Regions from separate parts of the Homo sapiens genome. Here all the other regions are linked to region 3. The links come from fine-mapping of genetic effects on gene expression. A gene starts in region 3. Each other region holds a variant in brackets. All regions are shown on one strand. Distances are between the middles of the regions. Region 1 overlaps LINC01504 (long intergenic non-protein coding RNA 1504). Region 2 overlaps LOC105376082 (a long non-coding RNA gene). Region 3 holds the start of ZFAND5 (zinc finger AN1-type containing 5). Region 4 has its middle 45 kb from the start of ZFAND5.

Region 1 (5,154 bases), 38 kb after region 3:
TTTTGTATTTTTAGTAGAGATGAGGTTTCAGGAGGTCTCAAAACTCCTGACCTCAAGTGATCTGCCCGCCTCGGCCTCCCAAAGTGCTGGGATTACAGGCGTTGAGCCACCGCGCCCAGCCAAAGTGGCAAAATTATATTTAGTAAAAGGGAAAGGAGTAAGGGTGGTGGTGAGAGAAAAGGCGGTGAGTGAAAACCTTCATTCAAGACTTTCATACACAATTTAACAGCTAACACTTTGATAATATTGAGGGCTTACGTGTGCAAGTGTTCTACATAAATATTACCTATGAAGTAGGTAATATTTTTATTCCCCACTTTGAAGATGAGAAAACTGAGACTCAAGGTTATTTGCTCAGTCACAGAGCTAGTAAGTGATAATGCCAGGATATTCAAACCTAGACCCAAGTGCACTCATGCTCTTAACCACTGTGCTATCTTGCTTCCCTGAAGACTCTAACAACATTTGGTCCTCAGAACCTATTCCTATGAAAGGATTTCAATGGCTCTTGAGCACTTTGCTCTCCATGACTTTTCCAGGAACCATGCTGATATTTCCATTGTTGACATCATCCCAGTGCTGCCTGCAGTTGTGTTTCCTCTTATTTATTTTCCTTATTGGAAACTAGAAGCTACAGTTATTAAATGCATTCAAATAGAGCTGCTCAGGGGAACAGACTTTCATGAAGGCCATACTCTTTAAAGGCTAACATAAAGCTTCCAAGCTCCCCCACCTTAGGAATCAGAGAAGGATGAAGGGCAGGAGACCCAGAGAGAGATTCTGTTGTCCTGACCTGAGCAGTAGACTATTCTATGCTTGTTCACCAAGAATGAGTAGCTGGGAGAGCAGAAATCCAGTTTAGGAAATATCATTCCCCAAAGAAGGAAGTCATTAACCAACATTTCTTCCTCTCTGTTAAGGTATGTGAAATGTAAGGAGAATGATTAAGAACCTAACAGGTAACAGTGATTAAGAGAAGAGGACTGGCCATCAATGGTAGACTGGATTAAGCAAATGTGGCACATATACACCATGGAATAGTATGTAGCCATAAAAAAGGATGAGTTCATGTCCTTTGTAGGGACATGGATGAAGCTGGAAACCATCATTCTGAGCAAACTATCTCAAGGACAGAAAACCAAACACCACGTGTTCTCATTCATAGGTGGGAATTGAACAATGAGAACACTTGGACACAGGGTGGGGAACATCACACACCGGGGCCTGTCATGGGGTGGGGGGAGGGGGAGGGATGGCATTAGGAGGAATACCTAAGGTAAATGACGAGTTGATGGGTGCAGCACACCAACATGGCACATGTATACATATGTAACAAACCTGCACGTTGTGCACGTGTACCCTGGAACTTAAAGTATAATAACAAATGTATATATATAAATTTTTTTTAAAAAAGAGAAGAGAATTGGAATCAGATTGCTTGGGTTCAATTCTGGTTTCATGACTTACTAGCCAAGTGAATCTTTGTGCAAATTACTTCAACTTCTCCAGATGTCAGTTTCTTCATCTGTACAAGGAATAATAATAATGCCTATTTTATAAGATTGCTGTGAAAGTTTAATGTAATTATCTATTTAAAGCTGAATATAACAAGTGCTAAATAAATATTAGATATTTGTTAACACAACTTGGGAAAGCAGGTGGTGAGGGTTGTATTAGCTTCCTAGGGCTTCTGTAACAAATGTCCACAAACTGAGTGGCTTAAAACAATAGAAATTTATTCTTCACAATCTGGGGCCCAGAAGTCTGAAATTTATGTGTTGGCAGGAATTCACTCCCTCTGCATTCCAGGTGCCTATATCCCTCCAATCTCTGCCTCCATTTTCACATGGCGTTCTCTGTGTGTCTTCTCTTCTGTCTCTTTAAGGACACTTATCATTGGGTGTAGTCCAGGATGATCTCATCTTAAGATCCTTCACTTACTTACATCTGCAAAGACCCTTTCTCCAAATAAGGTCACATTCACAGGGTCCAGGTTTTATTTATTTATTTATTTATTTAT[C/TTATC]TGTCTATTATCTGAGTGGAGTCTTACTCTGTTGCCCAGGCTGGAGTGCAGTGGCATGATCTTGGCTCACCACAATCTCCGCCTCCCAGGTTCAAGTGATTCTCCTGCCTCAGCCTCCCGAGTAGCTGGGACTACAGGCATACGCCACCATGCCCAGCTAATTTTTGTATTTTTAGCAGAGATGGGGTTTCACTACGTTGGCCAGGCTGGTCTTGAACTCCCGACTTCGTGATCCACCTGCCTTGGCCTCTGAAAGTGCTGGGATTACAGGCGTGAGCCACTACGCCTGTCCGGGTTCAGGTTTTAGAACAAGGACCTATCTTTTGGGAGGCTGTCATTCAAACCACTATAGGTGTTCAGAAACGTTTTCACTTCTCTTTTAACTACTTTCATTCCACTTTTGGCCGGGTACAATCTTTATGCTGTTTCCTAAATGCTGATGGTTCTTCCTTGACTTAGGACACTTTGCTAACTCTGTTAGGCTCGGTGCCATGGAGGATATAAAAATAAAACATCCTGGCTGGGCACAGTGGCTCATGCCTGTAATCCTAGCACTTTGGGAGGCCAAGGCGGGAGGATCATGAGTTCAGGAGTTTGAGACCAGCCTGGACAACGCAGTGAAACTCCATCTCTACTAAAAATACAAAAATTAGCTGGGCGCGGTGGTGTGTGCCTGTAGTCCCAGCTACTCGGGAGGCTGAGGCAGGAGAATCACTTGAACTCGTGAGGCGGAGGTTACAGTAAGCAGAGATCGTGCCACTGTACTCCAGCCTGGGCAACAGAGCAAGACTCCATCTCAAAAATAAATAAATACGTAAACAAATAAAATTTAAAAAAAAATCACAGACCACAAAGTAATACAAATCTGCCATGATCAAGGCCATCAGAGAAGTATAGATGAAGGCACTTAGAGGATGAGAGTTTACTTTGAAAATAAGCTAATAATTGAACTAGGTGATGGGTACATATGGGCATGTAGGTTGGGGTGTGTAGGGCTCCTTCTACGTAAGTGGAAGGAATAATGAAAGCAAATGTAAAGAAGTAGGATAGCATGGAGTATGTATTGAAAACAGCAAATTGATTTTGCTTTGGAACAGGGATCAATAAACTGGCCCATCCAGCCTACCATCTGTTTTTATATGTGCCCTGAACTAAGAATAATTTTCATATTTTAAATGGTTGAGAAAAAACAAGATAATTAAAAATTTATAACATGAAAATTATATTAAATTCAAATATTAGGATTCATAACTAAGCACAGCCACACTGTTTTGTTTACATATTGTCCATGGCTGCTTTCACACTACAATGGCAGAGTTGAGCAGTTGCGACAGAGACCACATGACTGAAGAGCCTAAAATATTTTCTGTCTGGTTTTTTTTTTTTTTTTGATGGAGTTTCCCTCTTGTTGCCCAGTCTGGAGTGTAATGGTGCAGTCTCAGCTCACTGCAACCTCTGCCTCCCAGGTTCAAGCGAGTCTCCTGCCTCAGTTTCCCCAGTAGCTGGGATTACAGGCAGATGCTACAATGCCCAGCCAATTTTTGTATTTTTAGTAGAGACAGGGTTTCACCATATTGGTCAAGGCTGGTTTTGAACTCCTGACCTCAGGTCATCTGCCCGACTCAGCCTCCAAAAGTGTTGGGATTACAGGCGTGAGCCACCATGCCCAGCCTCTATCTGGTTCTTTATAGAAAAAGTATGCGGCCAGGTGTGGTGGCTCACACCTGTAATCCCAGAACTTTGCGAGGCCAAGGCAGGCGGATCGCTTGAGCTCACAAGTTTGAGACCAGCCTAGGCAACATAGTGAAACCTTGTCTCTACCAAGAATACAAAAAAATTAGCTGGGTGTGGTGGTGTGCACCTGTGGTCCCAGCTACTCGGGTGGCTAAGGCGGGAGGATCGCTTGAGTCCCAGAGGTGGAGGTTGCAGTGAGCTGAGATCATGCCACTGCACTGCAGCCTGGGTAACAGAGTGAGACTCTGTCTCAAAAGAAAAAGAAAAGAAAAAGTTTGCCAACTCCTGCTTCAGAAGAACCCTCAGGGGCATAAAGGAAATAGCAGAAGAAGATATGCTGGTCCAGTATTGCCATTTGGCCTTTGGTAACAGCCTACATTCTTGACTTTGCTCAGCCTTTTTCTACCCACCTAAATTTTCCCATCCCAAATATTATCCTCTCAAGACCTTAATTGGTTATTTGCTAAGTAACCTGAGAGCTAATTTTGCGATCTTTTTAAAGCTGTGATTGAATCATAACAGTTTAATGTATAACTTATTACTCCTCCTAGGTAACATATTTGGAATTTAGGGGAACCCAAACCAAAAAATTGCTTCCCCCTGGCAGAACAGTGGGAAAGATATTTGCAAAAGTGAGCCTTCCTTCAACTTTCATGTCACACCTTATAGGCAGCCAATTCTACCTATCAAAAGCAAACTTGGTTGTTAGTTTTGCTGTTACCCTTTCAATTGGTTAAGTTACTAGTATGCCATTTGCTGCTAAGTTTACCCTTAGGGGAGAAAAATAACGGCAAGAATTACTTTACAATAATTGTCAACCACTGAGAGTTAAGTCTCTATGCCCCCTTTAGCTAATAAGGTAGGCCTGGGTAGCTATCATTAAGTCAAAGATTTTTTCATGAAGGAGGAAACAGCTCCCTGATGAATTTGAGATGAGATTAGAAATGCTGAAAGCAGTGTTCTCAAACTTTAGCATAGAGAAGAACCGCCAGAGGTCTGTTAAAATACGAATCCGCTAATCTTACCCCCAGAGAATCTGTGTCTCCAGTGGAACTCAGGAGTTATGGGGGGAAAAAAAATGATGAAGGATCCAAGCTACCTCCCACAAAGCAGTCTTTATATTTGGTTCTTTACTTGCTCCAAGAATCCCTAAGTTGTTAAAGTAACAGACAATGTAAGTAGACAGAAGCATCATTTTGAAAGACTTTCCTGTTCTCTCATTCTGTTTAACTGACCTTTATTCCCAGTGAGTAAACATGAATCAAACCCTAGTCTAAGTAAGAAAACGTGATTTGAGGGAAGGGCTGGATCTTTGAAAGCAGTATAGAATGGAGGTTAGGAAGGGAACTCTAGACAGAGGCTGCCTGATTCAAATCTCACCTCTGTCACTGGTGCTATGT
Region 2 (5,154 bases), 880 kb before region 3:
TTAAGATTTGGAAAAAGGAATTCCACTTAAAAGAAAAGAGAAAGTGATTGTCTTGGTGAATGGAATGCTCTAGATGTCTTTATTTTTTGTGTGACTATCTTAGATTCTTCAGTGCATATTCATTATTAGAAAATATTTTATTTTAATTTTTATTGAAAATTAATTTTGCTTCAGAAATCTCACTTATGTCAAGAAGGATTTCACATTGTAAGCTATCCTCTTTTTACATCTGCCTCTTGTTCCAACATCATTTGGAGTACACATTCAGAGGACAAGAGCCTTGTTCTAGTGCTTTTTCTTCTTGTTCATCTTTTTAACTGGGAAATGAATAGAGTCTGTTCCCAAAGCTGCCCTAACTATAGGTAGAGCTCTTGAGTAAGGTGGGAAAATGTCATCAGAAGGACAATAAGAGGACACAAAACACAATTAAACCACAGGGGAGGCAGTACTTCATTTACTTGGAAATTGCTCACTTATTGTTCTGGTAAGATTTGTAATCTTAAGGCATGGATTATTATATTTTTAAGCTCATTCAGTTTTAGTTTAAAAAATGCAATGGTATATGTTAATGATAGGGATGTGGAGAAGTGATTGTTCCTAATTAGATCTTTGTTACCAAACCTCTCTAATATCACAGGAGCATTCCTTTCTTGAACTTATTGAGCCCCCAGACAATTTTTCTTGGAAGTAATAAAGTCACGTGTTAAGGATTACAAAGGCTACTGAACATGTGAATACTTGGCAAAGTATTACCCATGTATTTTACTCAATTAAAGCAATTCTATGCTTATAGAATTTTTGTAATATCAAACTAAAAAATTATTTTAAATATGACACTGTTCTAATTGTGAATCTGAGAACACAATGGAAATGGACACAATTTTTCTTGACGGAAAAATAAGAATGTCTGTCTGTGTAAAGTTGCCGTAGAAAGACAGCTAAACCTGCAGATGCTTTGAATACTATCTAGTTGTTCTATGCGTTCATTTTATGCTCAGAAAAATATGTGCTATTAAACTTAATGTTATTTCTATTACTATTATCCAAATGTTCTTATATACATGAATAAATTGATTGATCTATGTCTAAATTATATGTAAATGAGTAATATGATCATGTTACTTGTTGTTTTATAAGGCAGAGATTTTTCCTTTTTTGCTTGATCTCTGCTCTTGAACCCCCATAGTACTCACCTATTATCTTAGTGTATATACACGTATATATACAATTACACATGAATACACGTTATACATACAAATTCATATAGACATATGTACAATGCAGAACTCAGAGTTCTGTGATCTCACAAAGCAATGGTGTGTGAAACACCCCAGAACCCTTTTGTAACCTCAAAGAGCCATCTTACCTGCCCCCTCCCATATTATGAAAAAAGACCCACTTTTTTTTCTAAGTCCTTTTTTTCTAAGACCCACTTTTTTTTTTCTAAGACCCACTTTTTTTTTCTAAGTCCTTCCTCAGGACTTAGAAATCTCTCTTTCACCTTTTATGACTTTATTGTTTTTCTTTTTATAAAACTAGTACTCCCTTTTTTTCTGTTCTTTTTTTGTTATTTTTTCAAGATGTCCTTCATTAATGAACATTCTCCCTATTGCAATAGCCTGAATAATAAAATCAAAATTGTGCAATGCATTTTGCTGTTCACAATATACATTCCACACATACACATACATCCACACACATAGAAACACATTTTTTATTTTATAAAAAATGAAGTCATATTACACATCTCTATCGCAACAGTACTTCATGCAAATTCTCTCAATAAAGCTTATTTGTAATAGCTGTAAAATTCTATGGTTTGAGTATACCATAATGTATCTTCCTATTGATGGGCACTCATTTTGCTTTCAAGTTTTGCTACCATAAACAATGTATAAATATATAACCTTTTATGTCTAAAAGAGGATATTAGATTACTTAAAAACTGTAACACTTCACATTTCCAATATTTAAGAGGACCCCTTTTTTATCATCCCCCCAAAAAAGGTGTTAATTTTACCAGTCTGATGAGTATCTACATTAACATTTACTATTCCACTGTCTTTTTAAAGAGAACGTGATTATTTCAAGGGACTCTTGCTCAGGAAGATAAAAGTTACAAATGACTTTACTTTTTATTCTGAGAACTTTCTAATTCATCAGCTTTTCAGTAGAAATCATCACATGCCAGTTTACACCCCAAGGCTCTTTGAAGATCTTGCCTCAAAACACCTTGCTTTAGCCAATACTCCAAAACCTTTATTTCATTATTTTTCTCCAGCCCTAATGAAGTCCCTGCATTGACAGACCTGTCTGAAGCCAGACTTCAAAACCTCAGCAATATCCTGACTGAGGTCTCCTCTCTCTGAGACATTAGTAGGCTCTGTGAAGCGAGTGCTGCCCTCTTACCGCATGGCTCTGTCCTGTTTACTGGTTGTGCAAGTATAATTTGGGAAGCCAGAATTCACAGGAGAAACTTCAAACCTTCTACCTATGGGAAATTAAGGTAAACTATTTTGCACATGAAGGGACAGATGAATTCTGTCTAAAGGACAAAATTTAAATGACTTTGCCCTACATCAGTTAAATAATGCATGGTATAAGTGAGTAAAGGAAAACGTTTTAAAATTTCAGCTTTTGTCACTAATATGTTTCAATCTTTCCATATACAGAGATAAGCATTGTATTAGAGTAGAGTATATGGTCCATTCTCTAGCTATAAGTTTATTAACTCTGATATTGTAAGCAAAAGAGCTGAAATGTTTTTAATTGGACACACATCTTATAGCTTCGCAGGTGCCGTCTGTACTCTACAGCAGGGGAAAATAAGTTTAGGGGATTTCCTTATCATTGGAATACAAAAAGAAATATCACAGGAAAAATGGAAGAGATTCTACAGGTTTCTTTTTATGTATTTTCTCTTTTACTTTTCACCCAAAACACCCAAGAAGGAGCTGTGATTACAATCACTGCATGAATGGAAAAAACTGAAGCTCTGGGAATCTAAGTAACTGGCTGCCGCTCCCACAGCGAAGGAGTAACAGAACTAGAATTAGGAGCTAGACCTAACTGCTTCTCTAGAGTTTGTCATTGTCCACTAAACTCTGTGCACTCCAGCCGAGAAATCTGATACCTTTGTTAGGACCATAAAACTCTGTCAAACAGA[C/A]ACTTTAAGGGAGAAAATATTAGTGTTATTGATGGTTAAAAAGCCTCTGCTTTAATTCCAGAACCAGAATTTCTGTAAGAAGTCGGAGATAAAATACAGGCATGTGAGGCCTGGAGGATTTCACTCAGAGGAAAATTGCTCCCTTTTTTACCTTCTGCATTTCCATAGAGGAAGGCTGTGAACTGGTCAGTTGTAGACTGGCCAAGAACCTCAAGTTGTGCTGGATCTGCATGTAAATTTGCTTTTAGCAGCATGAAACTCAAGCAATTTGACAAATGAATAGGAAACCCAACCACAGGGAAAAGGAAGTTCAGCCGAACGGTTGAAAGAACCGTTCTTAAAGGCTTCAAGAAACTTTAAGAGTGTGAGCCCAGTCTATGGAATTTTTAAACATCTTTAAGACAATTAGATACTAACTGAACGTGCCAATTTCTGTTAATATTACAGGAAACATATTGGTAGGATGCTAGGTCACTACTGAAAACGTAACGTTATCCTAAAAATAATTTAGATTCTGGATCAACTGATTCATGTGCCATAACCATGACAACATTGTTCCAGCTGCTGTTTTTTCGCACGCATAGTACTCTGCCTCCATAATTTATTCTTTTCATAAATCTTCCAGGGGTGGCATTAGTAACCCCACATTTCAGATAAGAAAACCGAGGGTTGGAAAGATGAAGAAATTTCCCCAAGCTCACAGAGCTGGTAAGTGACAGAACCTAGATTGAAATTGAGGCCTCTAACCATTAAGCTAAAGTCTAAAAAGAAATAAATTTTATTGTATGAATTTCGACAGTTTTAAGTATTGCAAGTAAATCCGATGACCAATATCCCAACATCAGAATTCTGATAGGTAGGAGATAAAAAGATACCTACTACCCTGGACTAATTGCAAGCAATTATAAGTACAAAGGGCATATTCCACTAAGCTACCGGTGTTACACTCTACATGATGTTAAAACAGGAACGTGATTCCTAACACACCCCAGCGTGGGTGCCACTCTATAATTACACTGTTAGCAGCTCTGTAATGAGTACTTTCTTTTTACTCCTCCAATCAATACAAATGCCTATCAACGTAAAATAGCCACGCAGCTTTCTACAGTCTAAAGAGTAAAAAGCAATCCAGGATGACAGAGTATCTATAATATATTTAAGCATATTGCTTCTTTTTAAAAATGCATTACTGGTATTATTTCGCATGTATTGAGGATGGTAAGCATGTGGGAATAATTAGAACAATGACCACCTCAGATGGAAAACATAGATGCCTGGCTGTACTGATAATAAAAGGTGCTGTCGGAGGCAAATCACACCCCATTACGACACAAATAGGAAACATTATTAATGCTTAATTCTGACTGTGTCAAGAATCACTCTGCTTTCGTTCATTGCTGATAACATCATTGCCTTGACCTTATTGCAAAATTAATGGTAGGCATTATATTATGTTATATTCATCATAGCATATTGAAAATTTGTGTGTGTGTATTTGTAGCCTTTGCAATTTTTCTCTTTGTACTAACATATCGCTTAGTTGTAACTTTGTTCAATGCTCTTTTAAAAATGCAAAGCCTCAGAGCAAAACCAGAGAAAAACTCTTTTCGCAACATTCAAAACTATTTAAGACCAGCTTAATTTAAATTGCCATGACCTGTAATGACTCTTGTGAGCTGGGTCCTCATTTGGTTTCTTGTTTTTTAACTGTATATACTTTGTGATACATAGCTAAAGACAATACTATAGGAAGTAAGGATTTTTTGTAACTCATTTAACCTCTTTTTACTAAAAATTGATGGTAATTTTTAAGTAGTGTAACTAGAAACCTTTATCTGAATCTTCCCTGGCAACTGTTTTGGGTCCTTCTCTTCTGGCCTTACACCATCTCTCTATGCCTGGATATATGGCTCCTGCTGCAAGACCCTTATTCAGTCTTAGTTCATGCTTGACAAGTTCCTGGAAGGACAGTCTTTTGATGTTGAGTC
Region 3 (5,154 bases):
ATTTTGTCACCAGGCTAGAGTGCAGTGGCATAATCTCTGCTCACTGCAACCTCTGTCTCCTGGGTTCAAGTGATTCTCCTGCCTCAGTCTCCCGAGTAGCTGGGACTACAGGCACGCACCAACATGCCCAGCTAATTTTTGTATATTTTTTAGTAGAGACAGGGTTTCACCATGTTGGTCAGGACGGTTTCAGTCTCTTGATCTCATGATCCACCCCCCATGGCCTCCCAAAGTGCTGGGATTACAGGTGTGAGCCACCACGACTGGCTACTCATTATCTTTTTTACAGAGGTTGGTTTCAGGCCAAAGTTGACCTTCCCTAATGACTATAGAGCAAAGCCCTTTGGCATGTTATATTAGAAGCATTCTCTTATATATTCTGTGTTTAGCAATTCAGTTTGTCTTTGGAGTGCAAGTGAAAATTTAAAATATAAGAAAACAAAAATAAAACAAAAACCTTCTTAGAAGTATATCCCTTAATCTGTTACACCAGTAATATGAGACTTTTTTTTTTTAAACTTTTCCCTTTCACATGGTGTGAGCCATCTGAAAAAAAGAGGGGTCACCTGATGCCATGGTAGGGTTAAGTCAATAGTTTTCAAACTTGTGTATGCATCAGAATCACCTGGAGGACTTATTAAGCCACAGACGGCTGTGCTAACCCCCAGTTTGTGACTCCACAGGTTTGGTGCTGGGGCCTGAGAATCTGTATTTCTAATAAGTTCCCAGGTAGTCTGGAGACCACATTTTGAGAACCACTAGAAAATAGCTGCTAAAAAGGAATCTTGGTATGTTTAGGTCCAATACCTGCAACATTCTTGATTGAAACAGTCTCAGAGAAAATTATAAATGGGTGATAGAGAAGATGAATTATCAGAAGGTGACATAATATTATGGAATACACTATTCAATAATGAGCTTGCCTCATTACCCTTAGACTTTTTTTAAAGTATGCTTCTTCAGGAATTATCTTGTTTCACTCACTATAACTCCAATTCTAGAGAAAGAAAAAAATTCAAGTTAAAATTCAAGTTATTTTTGTTCTCAATAATAATCACCTCCATTGCCTCCCTGCCCTTCAGTGCCCTGGGCAAGCCTTTTTAGTCATTGTTTCTTTATCTGTAGAAAGGGACATGATAATAGTACCTATCTCAGTGAATTGCTGTGAGGATAAAATGAGACCCTAAATGGAAAATAGTTGGCACTGAAAATGGCCTGTAAATGGTAGCTGCTATTTTTTTTTTTTTTTTACTAATTCATCTGCTAATTTAAGGAAATAAATTGCAGTGGTCGTGGGACCAGTGACCCAAACTACTTAAATCTCTAATACATTAATTGATCACAGTAATAAACCCGAATTTGTTAAAAAACAAAACAAAAGGTTGTTATGCTCCAGGTACTTTGCTAACTGTGGCGGAGAACTGTTTGATTTGGCAGTGGTGGCTCAAGCTATCAGTATAGCATTCCCCCAAATACAGATTATAAATAAGGACCACCTGAAGCGCAATATGGGCCCCCCCCCACCCCCGCTCCCACCCCGGAACAACCAAAACCATATCCAGGGGAGATGCGTAGGAATCTTTAATCACCCCAGGTGATTTTTTTTCTGATTACCAACTTTGAGAAACACTGAAGGGACCTCTTCTCCATTCTATATGTGGCTAATATAAACCCTAAACATCATTTCTATGTATTCGTTAGACCGTTGTTTACTAGAAAATTTCAGAAGTCCTTTCCGACTTAGTAATTTTGTTATTTTGAGTTGAACTGAAATTCACTTGGAGCGGTCAGTTGAAAATGTTTTTTGTTTGTGCTCTGAAAAGGTTCCCAGTGTTCCGGGTAAAGTCATCCTTTCACCCATGGGGGACCTGTGCCTCGTGCCTGAACTGCCCGCCTAGTACCTCCCCCCTTGAACTTCCTCTCGCAAGCCTCCTCCTCCCGCTTCATCTGGGCCTCGGGTCTAGCTTGTTTTGTCCCTTCGCGGCTTTTGAGTAGAACATTTGGTGCTTTCCCAGTTCACGACGCTTTGCTGGAATCGTCAATTTCCAGGGATTTCACAGGCTGGCCAAAACAGTTTGTTCAGAACAGCGCCGCCGGGGCATTGGCAGCCCTGGGCGGCCGCGCGTTTCCTCACTCCGCACAACCACCCGTGACCTTGGGCGAGCGAACGCACGCCGCCAGCTGCGTCAGGGCCACGCTCGGGCTGGACTTCGGAGCTCAAAATGGGTGTGGGGAGTGAGGAGGTTTCATAAACAGAAAAGACCTCGAAGCCATAAGGCAATTCTTTTCCTTTTCTGGGGGTGAATCCTTACGATTCTTGGGGGAGGGAATGTCTGCCCAGGGCTGGAGACAAAGCGTGAGAACTAGGATGGCGAAAAACGGGTTTGAATGAGAAAATCCGAAGGAGGGAGGCTGAGGGCGGACAATTGGGTTAAAAATAGAAACGCATCCTCCACAGGACTCGCTCTTCCCAGCTCCACCCTAGGGGCCGACTGCCAGGCCAGTGGCTGGGCTCCGCGAGAAGGCACAGCAACCCGTCTCGGCCCCGCCTCCTGGACCTACTGACAGGGCACCGGGGGCGTGGCCTTGGGCCCGCGACGTCACCGCGCTCCCCGCCGCCGCCGCCGCCGCCGGGGTTTTCGCTGACGCACGGGTCCCGCCCCCTCCCCCTCTTTTCCCTCACAGCCCGGGCGCCGGGCGGCGAGTGCGTTAGTCGGCCGGGACGCGGAGCTGTGTGCATCTCCTACGCGGGCTCGCTCGCTCCCGGGAGCCGCGCAGCTTCCCCGGCGGTGGCAGGAGCGGCGAAGAGCGCCATCAGCGGGCCCTTACGGCCCCAGGCCTCGCGGCGCGCGGTCCGCTCGCCCTCCTCGTCCGCCCAACCTGCGGCCTGTGGAGGCGTGAGGCGACGACAGGCGAGCGCCTCGAGCAGCGTTAGCCGCTGCGGCCGCCGGTCCTCCCTCCACCTCCTCCTCGGCCCCCCCTCGCTTCCCTCCTCCCACTTCCCGAGCTCCGGCGTGTCCCGGCCACGCTCGACGCTGCTGCAGGAACAAAGGAAGACCCCGCGGCGGCGGCGGCGCCACCTCCGCCTGCTGCTCCGACCCGCTCCCGGCCCGCGGCGGCGGCACCAGGGCGCCCGGCTCAGCCTTCCCGGAGGCCTCGGCCCGGCCTCATCGTGCCGGCTTCGCGCGCGAACCCGGCTTTCGCATTTGGGACCCTGCAGGGTGAGTGATACGGGGCTGCGGGTGGGAGCCGGGCTCCTTGTTGCCGGGCCGGGGGCGGGAGTGAAGGGACCGGGGCGCCGCGGGCCAATGGCGAAGCCGGAGCAGGCCGCGGATGGCGGCGTCCGGGGGAGGGGAGCCCGCCCGCCAGCCCAGGAAGCACAAAGACGGAGGCGTCATCCTGTCGTCGTGGCCCGAGACCTGGCTCCCGGCGTCCCTGGCTCGCTCCACAGCACGGTCGGGAAACAATGCACGGCGTGCCGCCTCTGCGGGGCCGGCCTCTAGGCCGCTCGCCTCCGCGGCGGCGCCCGGCGTGGGCACCACGACCCAGAGAAACAAAGAGGCCGAGGCGGCGGCCGCGCCCCCTGCCCGTTGCAGCCCCCCCTAGCTCTCCCCTAAGAGGAGCCGTTCGGGGTCGGGGGTCGGGGGTCGGGGATCCGCGTGGGGCCTGCAGGCGAAGGGCTGGCCGGGCCTGCTGAGCTGCTGTTCTGCATGACTCAGTGGTTTTCGGAGAGGGCCCTGTTGGGCTTTATTGAGTGAGGCCTTTGCTTAGAGGGGGATGGGGTATCAGTGGGACCCGAACTTGTTCCAAAATCCATTGGAACATGGGGCCGGGGGTTCTCGGCGTCGTCTTTTGGGCTTCTCGACGTCGCTGCGTTTTTATCCTGAGATCCGTTTTCATGGAGGAAATGGAACACCTCCTTTGTTTGGTGCATTTAGGCTGATGAATGTGAAATTTTTTGCTCGCTTTCCACGCACTCCGTGGAGGTGTGTTTTCGGGGAAGGGTCGGATTATCTTTATTGATTGAGTGTCTCCTAAGGGATAGCATCTAAGGAGATACCAAGATAAAGGAACATATAGGTCACACATCCCCGTTCTTAAACCTGGGATTTAGATACAGACTTCTAAAAACATAAACGAATGTATTTTATTCCTTATTTTTAGGATTTTTTTTAAAGAGTAGGCTTTCAGAACTCAGTTGGTGAAAATACTGCAATTTTATCTTTGAAGTTTTTTGTTAAAATGTTTCCCCACACCCCCCTAAAAAATTAAGGATTCTTTGTAGTTGTCTCCTGTTTTCTATCTCCCAGGCCCTGAAAAGGAGCCTTTAAAAGTCAATTCTACTCCATTTGGCAAAGAGGGAACTGAAATCTGGAAAGTAAGGACTTGCCCAAGGTCACTGACTTAGTGGCAGACTAGAGACTTGAACTCAGGTCTCCATTCCCAGGTGAGTGGGAATTCATGCCATCTCATCACATCATGTGCACCTGAAAGAACTGTATTCCATAGGTGTAAAAGCTCTTTGTTCAGAATTGGAATTGGAGAATTGTTCAGTTACACTCGGGTGTTTTTTTAAGCTGTAAGTTAGAGGAAGCCATAAACTTTATAAAATCTGCATTCTAGCTATACCTGATAGAGCTGACACGTGCATGCTCAAGTTGCTAATTACTTTAAAGGCAATAAATAGTAATGGTATTTTTTTCTAAAATACAAGGGGAATGCAATACCTAATGGGAACACACATCCCCCACTTCATCCCCTAAATCCTCACTAAATGAGGATTCTTTTTTACACTGTCTCCACTGTGCTTAGTTTTTTATCAACAACCTTGACCATTTTAGCTTTGACTATGCTTTCATCTTCTAGATTGAGATTGTTCTGTAGTTTTTCCTACATTAGGAAAAAACTAGCAGCCCTTTTTTTGTTTTCTTATGTTAGATATATGAACGCTGCATCCTTAGTTCTTGGGGTTGTGTAGGAGTTGGCAGGCTTTGAGATATAAATAGAAGCTGATTTCAGAGGCCCCTGTTGACTAGGCTTTATGTGAGAGCCTCCATCCAGCTCAGCTTGTCACATTGCAGCCTTGTGACAGGCTGAAGCGCCCTCCCATGTGATCTGAGCTTCTGAGAAATATTAAAGCAAGCTGTGCACATG
Region 4 (5,154 bases), 44 kb before region 3:
ATGCATTCACATAGGTGTGATGGTTACTTTTAAGTGTCAACTGGCTAAGTTGTGGTACCCATTTGTTTGGTCAAACACTGGCCTAGATGTTGCGGGGAAGGTATACTGTATATATAATTAACATTTAAATTGGTAGACTTTGAGTAAAGCAGATTTCCCTCCATAATGTGTGTGGCATCATCTAATCAGTTGAAGGCCTTGAAAGAAAAGATTGAGGTCACCTGAAGAAGAGAGAATTCTGCCTCCAGACTGCCTTTGGATACAAAACTACATCAACTCCTGCTGGAATTTCCAGCCTGCCCTGCACACTTCACAGTGGCCAGTGCCCACAATCTCATCAGCCAATTTTTTTAGAAAACTGTAATGAAAACTAAAAATATATATAATTTAAATTATAGAAATTACATGCATATATTTACACATACATATATATGCACATACAGAAATATATATGTAATTTCTATAATTTAAATTATATATATTTACATATTTTTACATATGTCTACATATATTTACACACAAACACACGTGTGTGTGTATGTGTGTGGTTCTGTTTCTCTGGAGAATCCTAATACAATACGTATAGCAAATGACCCATGCTACAACTGGGACAGCTTGAAATGGCCATTATTAAAAACAATTGTTAGGTAGTCAGAAATAAAGAGCATGTGTCTGTAAGAACATCTCTCTCTTTTATAATCAGTGTTATAGCGATCTTGTGAAAGAATAACAATAATTGAACTGTTTATTTCTTCACGTGATCTTTAGTTACTCTCAGGAACTTGGTGCAAATGAGTATCTCCACTGTAGAAGAAACTAATTAAAATTAAAATCTCAAACTAAAATTCATGTAAGAATTCAATAATTTCATACATTTAGGATATAGACAAACCTCTTCAATTTTCCACAGAAGTTCCGAAGAGCCCAATTTTTAAAATCCTGACAGGCTTTTGGGGGAGTCATTAGTGTCCCCAGCCTATACAACCATGGGGCAGGCAGGGTTCTGGAGGGAAGCCAGAGAGGCCAGAGGGGTCACAGTTGAATTGCTGGGCCCAGTAAGAGGTTTGCATAAGATTGGTCTTCTCAGACTGGGCACAGTGGCTCATGCCTGTAATCCCAGCACTTTGGGAGGCCAAGGTGGGCGGATCACCTGAGGTCAGGAATCTGAGACCAGCCTGTCTGACATGGTGAAACCTCATCTCTACTAAAAATACAAAATTAGCCTCGTGTGGTGACGTGAACCTGTAATCCCAGCTACCTGGGAGGCTGAGGCAGGAGAATCACTTGAACCCAGGAGGCAGAAGTTGCAGCGAGCCAAGATCCCACCATTGCACTCCAGCAGGGGCAAAAATAGTGAAACTCCATCTCAAAAAAAGAGACTGGTCTCCTCAATCAGAGATGATAAAAAAGAAAAGAGAATATACTACCACTACGATTTTCTAGTAGTTAACAAAACAGACATACTGCCTTGACTTGCCTTTGCCAAGGTTGCTGTCACTCTAGCATTCGATAATGCTGGTAACTCAAAATGCATCCCTGTCCCCAAGAAACAGTTTTGGGTCAAAACTAGGAGTTGGCAAAAATTTTTTTGTAAAAGGCCAGACAGTAAATATTTTTGGCTTTGTGGGTCACTACTCAATGCCACTGTTGTAACTCAACCATAAAACATGAAATTTCATCAATACATGAAAGAATGAACATGGTAGGATTCCAGTGAAATTTTCTCTACAGACAGTAAATTTACATTTTATATAATTCTTACCTGCCATGAAATATTATTCTTCTCTTGATTGTTTTCAACCATTTAAAAATATTTTTAAAATTATTCTTAGCACACATGTTGTACTAAATAGGCAGCAGGCTGGACTTTGCCCGCAGGAGACAGTTTTCCAACTCCCTCTATAAACAATGAATATTAAGAATGATAAAACTGGTGAGTTATGTTTAGTGGAAAACATTCACCTTATTTCTAAGTGTAGAAAGTCAATTCTGTGGTAACCCCAATGGATTATTTTAGTTGTAGAAATAGTTGGCCCCATTGGTTCAGATATTCACCATTATTTAAGTCACAAATTGAATGTGCTTCATTCATTCATTCTTCAATAAATATTTATTGAGTGCCCACTATGTCCGAGGCACTGTATGAGGTACTAGGATAAAAAAGCAAATATTCTGTAAATTCATTCCCAAAATAAACCTCTGAAAATTACTTTATACTGTTCCTTCAATCTGCTTGGGATTTTGAATTTTTGGCAGTCGATGATTAACAAAAGGAGATGGTGTTAGTCCAACTCTGAGGTATTATTAACTCAAGCAAAACAAAAAAAAAAACAACATTTAACATGAATGACAATAAACCTTCATATTCAAATGAGATAAGAAGCCAATACATGTTTTATTATTTTCATAAGGGCTGGCTGAATTAGAAATAACTATAATAGTTTCAGCTGGGGAAAGGATACTTTGTATTACCTTATCATTTCTAATAGCATAAAATTAATTTTTAGTTACAGTGATTAAGTGTAAGTTTCTAACCTTTTGGAAAATAATGGTGACAGTGCATTAATCTATTGCAAATCAGGAATTAGGGCATCGCAGGGACAATCATTATCAAAGTATATTTACTGACTGCCTCTTAATTGCCTAACAAAATAACTCTGCTCTTATTTCAAAATAAGCGTGTTTCAATA[T/AT]GTTTGTAAGCTTTGATATGACTTGATGTTCATCACAGTTCTATCTATAATAGTGGAAAATTAGAAATAACTTAAATATCCATCATGAAAGGAATAAATAAATATATAATGGTATATATTATGGATCCACCAGACAATGGAATATGGCTATTACAAAAGATGATTCTAAATCAATGGCCACTACTGAAGAAAGATATCTACAATATACCAAAAACTTTTTCAGAAAGCAGGTTATAGGCCAAATGCACAGCACTTTGGGAGGCCAAGGCAAGCAGATCACCTGAGGTCAGGAGTTTGAGACCCGCCTGGCCAACATGGCAAAACCCCGTCTCTACTAAAAATACAAAAAATTAGCCAGGCATGGTGGCACACGCCTGTAATCCCAGCTACTCAGGAGGCTGAGGCAGAAGAACCTCTTGAACCTGGGAGGCAGAGGTTGCAGTGAGCCGAGATCACGTCACTGCACTCTAGCCTGGGCGACAGAGTGAGACTCCATCTCAAAAAAACAAAAACAAAAACAAAAACAAAAAACAAAGAAAGAAAGCAGGTTACAAGACAGCATTAATAGTTTGTTCTAATTTATGTAAGGTCACATACATTAGAACACTAACCAAATTTTTATAAATTATTACTCCCAGGTGGCCAGAATTTGGGGATGATTTTTACTGCCTTTAAAAAAATTTTCTCTATTCTTTGAAATTTTTACAATGAACATGTACTGGGCGCCTAAATAAATAAAGAAGATTTTTTTCATTATGTAATCTACAAAACTAAAAATCAGCAGGACTTTTATGATTAAAATGACCAATAAATTATCATTTCAGTGATAAAAATAGTAACAAGTATATGAGGCTTGTCGGGATGGCAATCCTGTGGTCGTAATAGCTATTGAAATTACCCCGGCTGGGTGTGGTGGCTTACGCCTGTAATCCCAGCACTTTGGGAGGCCGAGGCGGGTGGATCACAAGGTCAGGAGATTGAGACCATCCTGGCTAGCACGGTGAAACCCCGTCTCTCCTAAAAATACAAAAAAATTTAGCCAGGCATGGTGGCGGGCGCCTGTAGTCCCAGCTATTTGGGAGGCTGAGGCAGGAGAATGGCGTGAACCTGGGAGATGGAGCTTGCACCACTGCACTCCAGCCTGGGGGACAAAGCAAGACTCTGTCTCAAAAAAAAAAAAAAAAAAAAAAATCCCTAATGTGAACATTTTTGGGAATGCAATCTATTCCCATTATCCTGCCTTGAACAACACTGTTTCATTTGAAAGCTTCAAGAATATCATGTGCTTTGCTATCCTCTACGTGCCCATTGTCTTCAAGAAACTCAGCATCCTAGCACGAGAAAGTGTTGAGATCAAGTCTAAATCACTCATCCTACAAATAAAGGAACTAAGCCAGAGAGGTGACATGACCTGCCCAAAGCCCCACAGCTAAAGCTATAACACAATTTCTCTCATTTTTGTGCCAGTCATAGAAAGTTACCTTGAACCCATCATCAGAATGTCGTAGTACACTAGAAGTCCCACATGAAACCAAACTAAGATCATGCTGGAATGTATTGGCATCCCAGCCTCCATTGTATTCATAGAGCTCTGGGGAGTGTAATGCTGAAGGACTGGAGGAAGACCCAGACACACATCTGTGATGCTGCACTTGGCAAAAATGGGGAGGTGGAGTGACATCGAGTCTCTTAGACGCACACAGATTTGGAAGAAAGAAGCTTCTGCCTGTCATACACTGCCCAGGCCTTAAAAAAAAAACAATAAAAATACTTACACCATGCATTCACAGACAGGTTCAGATGTGACATTGTGCAGCTGTTTATTAATAAAGGGGTAACATTTGAAACAAAAGAAGTAAATACAATTCTGTAGTATATGAAGAACAGAGAACGTAAATGTAAGGCTTGGGTGAAGGAAAATATTCAGTCAAAGGTAATAACAAAAGCTAATAGCTATAATTGATTGAGAACCTACTACACACTTTACAGAAACTATTACCCCAAGTTCTCACTACAACCCACAAACCTTTGTTCTTCAATCAATACTGCTTCCCTGTCAGGACAAGTCAGAGTGAAAAGAAAAGACCTCAGACATCACATCACTGGAAGGCAATGGAGAAGAAAATGTTAAAGAGAAGGTTATTGCTGTCAAGTGGTGCTCTGAAGCTTAGAAGGATGAAGACTGTGAAAAGCCATTGGATATGGTGTTTAGGACATTTTCAATGTCCTTTTAGAGTTTTATTCTCCCTTTTGTCATGTTACCATGAAATCTGACCTGACTTGGCTAGCCGAATTTAATCACTAGGATTGAACTAAGCCTACAGTAAGTGTACTATTTTCTGGAAGTAAATGATTCATCTGTATGAGGTAAAGGAAATTTTCCAGGAAGAAGAGTTGCTATTTAGCAAACGCCATTATGCATATTATAGTAGTTGTACTCATTTATTGACATGTATTAACTCCT

What was found. PIP is the estimated chance that this variant, and not a neighbour inherited with it, causes the effect.
Region 1: its variant is the best candidate, but not a certain one, in a credible set for the expression of ZFAND5 in whole blood (INTERVAL, PIP 0.57).
Region 2: its variant is the best candidate, but not a certain one, in a credible set for the expression of ZFAND5 in whole blood (INTERVAL, PIP 0.53).
Region 4: its variant is the best candidate, but not a certain one, in a credible set for the expression of ZFAND5 in whole blood (INTERVAL, PIP 0.52).

What each region holds. Positions count from the first base shown.
Region 1 is chr9:72,325,035-72,330,188 of GRCh38, reverse strand. It overlaps LINC01504 (long intergenic non-protein coding RNA 1504), which reads right to left. Exons shown (of 5, transcript NR_110952.1): 3 at 1,468-1,525. Among named protein-coding and RNA genes, the nearest start is that of LINC01504, 22 kb to the right of the region's middle. The variant C/TTATC (reference allele first, on the strand shown) is at 2,021.
Region 2 is chr9:73,240,503-73,245,656 of GRCh38, reverse strand. It overlaps LOC105376082 (a long non-coding RNA gene), which reads left to right. Exons shown (of 5, transcript XR_929931.2): 4 at 2,282-2,506; 5 at 3,228-5,154. Among named protein-coding and RNA genes, the nearest start is that of ANXA1, 91 kb to the right of the region's middle. The variant C/A (reference allele first, on the strand shown) is at 3,167.
Region 3 is chr9:72,362,763-72,367,916 of GRCh38, reverse strand. ZFAND5 (zinc finger AN1-type containing 5) reads left to right here and starts at 2,709. Exons shown (of 7, transcript NM_001102420.3): 1 at 2,709-3,221; 2 at 4,311-4,447. RefSeq lists silencers at 2,471-2,850, 2,861-3,690 and enhancers at 2,298-3,002, 3,003-3,706.
Region 4 is chr9:72,407,138-72,412,291 of GRCh38, reverse strand. No RefSeq gene overlaps it. Among named protein-coding and RNA genes, the nearest start is that of ZFAND5, 45 kb to the right of the region's middle. The variant T/AT (reference allele first, on the strand shown) is at 2,691.